Homo sapiens: one gene and its partner. The gene in region 1 interacts genetically with each later gene. Each region holds a gene or a part of one and is shown on either strand. Other genes may lie near its edges.

Region 1 (3,500 bases):
CACAAAGGACCCATCATCTGGTAGAGCTCCTATTTTGATGAGCTTCCCCAGTAAATGTTGCTCTAGAACACCTGGTTTGCTGCTGTCTGTCATACACCTCGTGCGCAATATTACTATGTGTGCATCCACCACATTGGAAACTCTTGTAAACACTACCTTTGTATCACCTCATTTATGCCTCCCAATCCATTTACCCCTCCCAATAGTGCAGGTGGGCACTATTATGATCACTCTCCATCTCAGATAAGAGAATTGAAGCACAGAGAAATTCAACAATTTGGTTCAAGGTCACATATTTAATATCTTATTTGAACCAGGTAGTCTAACCCCAGGGTCCAAACCTTCAACCCCTCTTCTCTACCCTCTTAGAATCTCTCAGAATACTCACATCAGCTTCTGAAATTTTGGAGGCCTGTTCTTTTATTCGTTGATGCCACCATTTCTCAACATCCTTTCTTGTCTGCAATGTATACTCTTTTGTCCACTTTCCCGTGGCACTGTAGATGCTTCTGGTACATCCGGGAATTACTCTCCTTTCCCACTTGATGACATCTGGCCCACCATTTAGCTGTCTTTTCAGAAGAGAGGCATAAAAACCCAATCTCTGCCAAACAGAAGCCATTCTTCAGAAGGTGAGAAGGCCCTGAAAAAGAGGGCAGAAAGCACACTATGAGCTGCCTCAAACCCTCCCCAGAGCTTATCTTTCCATTTGGCACAGTCCAGTGTTCTGGCCCTGTGCTTTCCTCTTACTTTTAATAATTTCTTTCCCTGAAAAGAATACTTTAGCAATTCAATTGAGCTAAACACAAACTTTTTAATAGAAAATATAAAGGGTCAGTAACCCCTAACATCAAAGATGCAAAAATCCTGTAGGAAAAAATGGAGACCATCAGCTGGCCAGCTCCTGCGCAACCTCACAAGTTGCATGGAAGGCATGGAGTGCCCTCCCTCCCCTCCCCATGGGCCAGCCCAGGGACTCTCCAGCAGGCTTCACTTCTTATGTCTTCAAGCCTCAGAAGAGCTCAAGCACATGCTGAGTTGGCGTTAGGCTCAAATATCAGAAGGGGTCTAAATACAGGCCTCCCAGGAGGGCCAGAAATTCTGAACTACTATTAGTAATTTTTATACATATTATGAGTTAAATATACCCTGTAGGCTGAACCAGAAAATAACCATTATTTAGAAGACTGTTAATTCATTTAGTTTCTCCTTCATTTACCAAATATTTATTTATTTATTTACTTACTTTTTAGAGACAGGGTCCTGCTCTTTCACTCAGGCTGGAGTGCAGTGGCATAATCATACCTCAGTGTAACCTCTGACTCCTGGGCTCAAGCGATCTACCTGCCTTAGCCTACCAAAGTGCTGGGATTACAGGCGTGAGCCACCACCAAATATTTAATGACTACCACTAGGCCCACACGTTGTTCTAAGTACTGGGAATATAGCAGTAAACACAAACAGAGTCCCTTCTTTCTTTCTCTGTTTTTTTTTCTTTTTTGAGACAGAGTCTCGCTCTATTGCCCAGGCTGAAGTGCAATGGCATGATCTTGGCTCACTGCAACCTCCACCTCCTGGGTTCAAGCAATTCTCCTGCCTCAGCCTCCTGAGTAGCTGGGATTATAGGCATGCACCAACATGCCCGGCTAATTTTCGTATTTTTAGTGGAGATGGGGTTTCACCATGTTGGCCAGGTTGGTGTCGAACTGCTGACCTCATGATCCACCCACCTTGGCCTCCCAAAGTGCTAGGATTATAGGCGTGAGCCACCACACCTGGCCCAGAGTCCCTTCTTTCGTAGCACTTATTACATACTAGCAGGGAAGCAGATAAGAAACAAACAATAAGGGAGGCAGATGAGAAACAAAAATATATAACATGTGGTCACGGTGAGTGCTATTTTTTGAAATACAACTCATAGGTTGGGGCCTACCAGGATATCCAGTTGTGATTCAAAATCCAATTTTAATGTTTCGTTGGCTTCTTCCACAGGTAAATACTGGAAATGACCTCACTGAAGAAGTTTCATGTTTTATTGCTATTCAAAGGGTTGAGGTGAGATTTTTATCAAATATTTAAGATATAAATACTAGACTAAATAGCCTAAACTTTCTCCTTCTGGCATAACAGCATTCAAGAAGTGCTACAGTGAAAAAACAGATGACAACAGATCTTTTCAAAACCAGAGAGAAATAAAGAAACCCGGCACTCTAAGCTGATGTTCTTTGATTCTCTCAAAATTCCACTTCTATCAGGATTTGGCCTGTTTCACAAAGGTACTAGAACACAAATGTTGCCAGGAAGGTCAATATAGGCTTATAACAGTGAGTTTCAAACTCACATAAGACAGCAACATAATGTGGGCATCTTACAAGTTGGTCTGCCAAAGTCATTGACATTATCAGTTCTCACTACATTAAACACCTCTTGCTTCTTCAGGGATAGAATAAAGTGCAGACTTAAAAAAAAAAATCTCTCTTAGGCCACGGGCAATGGTTCACGTCTGTAACACCAGCATTCTGGGAGGCTGAGGCAGGCGGATCACCTGAGGTCAGGAGTTCGAGACCAATCTGGCCAACATGGCAAAACCCCTTCTCTACTAAAAATACAAAAATTAGCTGGGCATGGTGACGTGCATCTGTAATCCTAGCTACTAGGGTGGCTGAGGCAGAGGAATAACTTGAACCTGGGAGGCAGAGGTTGCAGTGAGCGCCACTGCACTCCAGAGCCTGGGCGACAAAACAAGACTCCATCTCAAAAAAAAAAAAAAAAAGATAAAAAAGAAATCTCTCTATTAGTTGGGCTTGGCTATTTTAAAGTACACAGATCTGATTACAGGCATTTGAACTATATGAAATTGGTTAAATGTTAGCAATTCCATATGACTGACCTAATATACATACGCTTTGTACACTTAAGGCAATTGCATATATTTTTAGGGCTTAGGTTGCTATAATTAGAACTCCCTAATTATATAGAAGTCACAGATTTTATGGTTCTCTTGCCAAGTCAATACTTTCATACCTTTGCAAGCCAAAGAACGCCTGTTTAGCAGAGGACACATAGATGGATGCTTGCCACTTCTCTCCTAGACAGCATCCCCAAAGAACACCTAAGGAGTGTTCTGGGCTATCCTCTCAAATAGAAACAAAAGGGCACAACAAAATTATAAAATACAGTGACTTGAACTGCTCTGCCTACACTGTCTGTCTACACAACAAGAATAAGCTTTCTAAAAATGTTCACATAATACCTGGCTTACTAATGACCTCTGCTTTGCTTAAATAAACCAGTGAACTAGAGAATCCTGAAACAGATCTGGGTATTTAAAAGCATTTAAAGTTCATTTTTTTAAAAAAGCAGGAGCAGATTAGATAGTAATAGATTATTCAACAAATAAGAGAAAAACTTAAAATTAGAGCCCCACCTCAAATCATAAGCCGGAGTAAATCCCAGATAGATTAAATAATGTTTTTTATCTGTAGGTCTGGATCTGAAAA
Region 2 (3,500 bases), on another chromosome or scaffold:
CTCCTTGTCACCATGCTGAGAGCCCTTGCCTGGTTTCTCATCCTGGGGAGCCTGGGGTGAGGGAGCCCCATGCATCCCTCAGACGTCAGCTGTCTTGTCTTCCACTTTCTGCATTAGATTTCTTTCATTTTTACGTTATTTTTTCTTTTTGTAGAGTTGGGGTTTTGCCATGTTGCCCAGGCTGATCTTGAACTCCTGGGCTCAAGCCATCCTCCGCCTCGGCCTCCCAAAGTGCCGGGATAACAGGTGTGAGTCACAGCGCCTGGCTTATTTCTTTTCTTTTCTTTCTTTCTTTTCTTTTCTTTTCTTTTTTTTTTTTTATGAGACGGAGTCTCGCTCTGTCACCCAGGCTGGAGTGCAGTGGCACAATCTCATCTCGGCTCACTGCAAGCTCCGCCTCCTGGGTTCACGCCATTCTCCTGCCTCAGCCTCCTGAGTAGGTGGGACTACAGGTGCCCGCCACCATGCCTGGCTAAGTTTTTGCATTTTTAGTAGAGACGGGGTTTCACTGTGTTAGCCAGGATGGTCTCGATCTTCTGACCTTGTGATCCGCCCGCCTCGGCCTCCCAATGGCCTATTTCTTTGAATAACATCCTGTTACTGGAGTCAGAGAGAAAGACCTCTGTGTCCTCCCTTTCACCTGTAGACGGTCCTCCCTGCTGCCTAACTGCTCCCTCTTATCCCCTGTGATCCCTCAGGCCCTTTCCTTGACTCTGTTGGTGTCCCCCATGCCCCCCAGGGTCCTGTCGGGGAACCCTCTGCACTGTTCTTGTGCCCTGCGCTGGCTACAGCGCTGGGAGGAGGAGGGACTGGGCGGAGTGCCTGAACAGAAGCTGCAGTGTCATGGGCAAGGGCCCCTGGCCCACATGCCCAATGCCAGCTGTGGTAGGTGCCGGGTGAGGGAGGTGGTGTAAGGGGGCTGGGGAAGAGACCTACCTGCCTGAGGGAGAGGGCACTGAGCAAGCACTGAAAAGGCCTGGGGAATGGGCACTGGCAAAGGCTGGGGGAAACTGCCTGGGGTGACATCGCCTGGGCTCCAGGTCATTGAGGAGGGTGGGGGAAGGAGCAGCCCCGCAGTAGAGTTCTGGGGCCACTCCCAGCTCTAACACCCCTTGGCCCTCGGGCGTCCTGGGTGGCCAGGTGTGCCCACGCTGAAGGTCCAGGTGCCCAATGCCTCGGTGGATGTGGGGGACGACGTGCTGCTGCGGTGCCAGGTGGAGGGGCGGGGCCTGGAGCAGGCCGGCTGGATCCTCACAGAGCTGGAGCAGTCAGCCACGGTGATGGTGAGAAGACCTTCGCTGGCAGCCCCCAAGAGGTCCAGGCAGAGCACAGGGGACAAAGATGGGGAAAGAGAGACACACTGTGGAGGAAAGAGACAACGAATAAGGAGCACACTGAGGTTGAGGGACGGACAGAGATGGTTTAGACCCACAGGGCTCAGGCCTATGCTCTGGGGCAGCCCAGGGCACGCACACACCCTCAGGGTGGGCACTGACCCAGCAGGGACCCCAGGCTATACTTGAAGCCCCAGGACTTAGAACCCCTTTCTGGGAACATGGTGTTGGCTGCAAGGGAGAGGGTCACAGAAACCTTACATGTTGGAGCTGAGAGGAACCCAACAGACCATCCCTCCCGTACATCACTTTTCTCTCTCCCTTCCTTCCTTCCTTCCTTCCTTCCTTCCTTCCTTCCTTCCTTCCTTCCTTCCTTCCTTCCTTCCTTCCTTTTATGGAGTTTCGCTCTGTTGCCCAGGCTGGAGTGCAGTGGCGCGATCTTGACTCACCGCAACCTCCGCCTCTCGGGTTCAAGCGATTCTGCGATTCTCCTGCCTCAGCCTCCCGAGTAGCTGGGAGTACAGGCACGCGCCACCATGCCCAGCTAATTTTTGTATTTTTAGTAGAGACAGGGTTTCACTACGTTGGCCACGCTGGTCTCAAACTCCTGACCTCGTGATCCACCCACCTCGGCCTCCCAAAGTGCTGGGATTACAGGTGTGAGCCACTGTGCCCGGCAGATCACTTTTCTATATAAGGAAACTGGAACCCAGGGAGGAGGCACAATATCAGTTGTACTGCATCCGGGATGAGTTCTCGGGGGTATCGTGGTCTTTTTTCTGGAGATTCTGGAAGCAGCATCCTCTTGGGCATGTGATGAACGTATTAGTAAGGGAGGCATAGGTCTGGCTCCAGCTCTCTCACTAATTAATTCTGGGAATGACTTTCAGAAAAATCCCTTAATCTGCCTGCACTTTGGTTTTCTTATCTGTAAGCTGAGAAGGTGGACATGATGGCCTTCTGATGTCCTGCCTGCCCCTGGGCGTTCTCTGGCCTCTATCTCTGTTATCCATACATGCCTTTGGACATCTTCCCAGGCCTTACCCTTTGTCCTTAGGCTGGCGATGGGCCGATGAGAGTAGCCACAGGTAACTCAGTCGGCCTTGTTGACGAGGTCAACGGCAGCTGACAATGGGCTGTGCCCACCCAAAAAGCTGGCTCCACCTGGGCAGGAGGAGTGGATATGCAGGGACCAGGAATGTGTGCCTGGGGGGCTGGGAGCATGGTGTTTATTTGGGGAGCCTTCACTTTGGTGGGAGAGTCCACCCCAGAATTGCTGGAGGCCCCTGGAACCATGTTGAGGGAGATGCCACTGGGGCGCTGAGCAGGGGGCTTCAGACATGGTGGAGGGACAACTAGCCACTGAGCAGTTCCTCCCTGCTCCAGAGAGCAAAGCTGCCTAGAGTGAGTAAAAGAAAGGGGACCAGGCAGAGGCCATACCCCTGCATGGAGAGACCTTAGATCAACTCTGTTTGGGGTGATTCCAGGATTTGCTTTCTCTTTGGGAGACTTACATGTTTGCTACCATCTGTGTTTTCTAGAAACTACCTATACAAAAGTCACTCCCTACTGGGCACAGTGGCCCATACCTGTAATCCCAGCACTTTGGGAGGCCAAGGAGGGATAATCACTTGAGACCAGCAGTTTGAGACCAGCCTGGGCAACAAAGCAAGACCCTATCTCTTAAAAAAAATTGCACCCTAAATGGGTTAAATGGAGGAGAAGAGAGGCTGCTCTCCCTCAGTTAGGAGGATAAGGGGTGGCAGACCAGCTCAAGGGGAAGAGTTATTGGCCCCACAGTAGTTGGAGGGGATGGGACAGCCAAGGGAAGCAGAGGGCAGGGCAGGGCTTCCCCTCGAAGTGGCTGGAACCCAGAGCTTGCACAAAAGGCTGGAAACTCTACTGGAACCTTTGAACTCACATATTCCAATGGAAGCCTGGGGAAACCATACCTCCTCTGGCATGTGGTCAGAGGATTCCACATTTATAAAGTTTTCGGATAAATGAGATTTATCCACCACTTCATTATTTTCATTTTGTGAAAATCACTTTCTAAAATGTCAGAAGATAATTTGTCCACCTCTTCAGCTTACAAAACAAACAAAAAACCCACAGTTCAGCAAGATGAAGAATTGTCGTAAGATCATGTAACTTACACATGACAAA

The links. Genes that interact genetically often act in the same process or in processes that back each other up.
Region 2: changes in LARS2 (region 1) and NTRK1 together harm fitness less than expected from each alone (positive genetic interaction), as found in Homo sapiens cells (one large-scale study listed by BioGRID).

What each region holds. Positions count from the first base shown.
Region 1 is NC_000003.12:45,391,576-45,395,075, reverse strand, and holds part of LARS2 (leucine--tRNA ligase, mitochondrial), read right to left. Parts: intron 3,494-3,500; 5' UTR 3,428-3,493; intron 644-3,427; 5' UTR 623-643; coding exon 389-622; intron 1-388.
Region 2 is NC_000001.11:156,867,365-156,870,864, forward strand, and holds part of NTRK1 (high affinity nerve growth factor receptor isoform 2 precursor), read left to right. Parts: intron 1-739; coding exon 740-885; intron 886-1,140; coding exon 1,141-1,283; intron 1,284-3,500. UniProt on the Homo sapiens protein: Receptor tyrosine kinase involved in the development and the maturation of the central and peripheral nervous systems through regulation of proliferation, differentiation and survival of sympathetic and nervous neurons.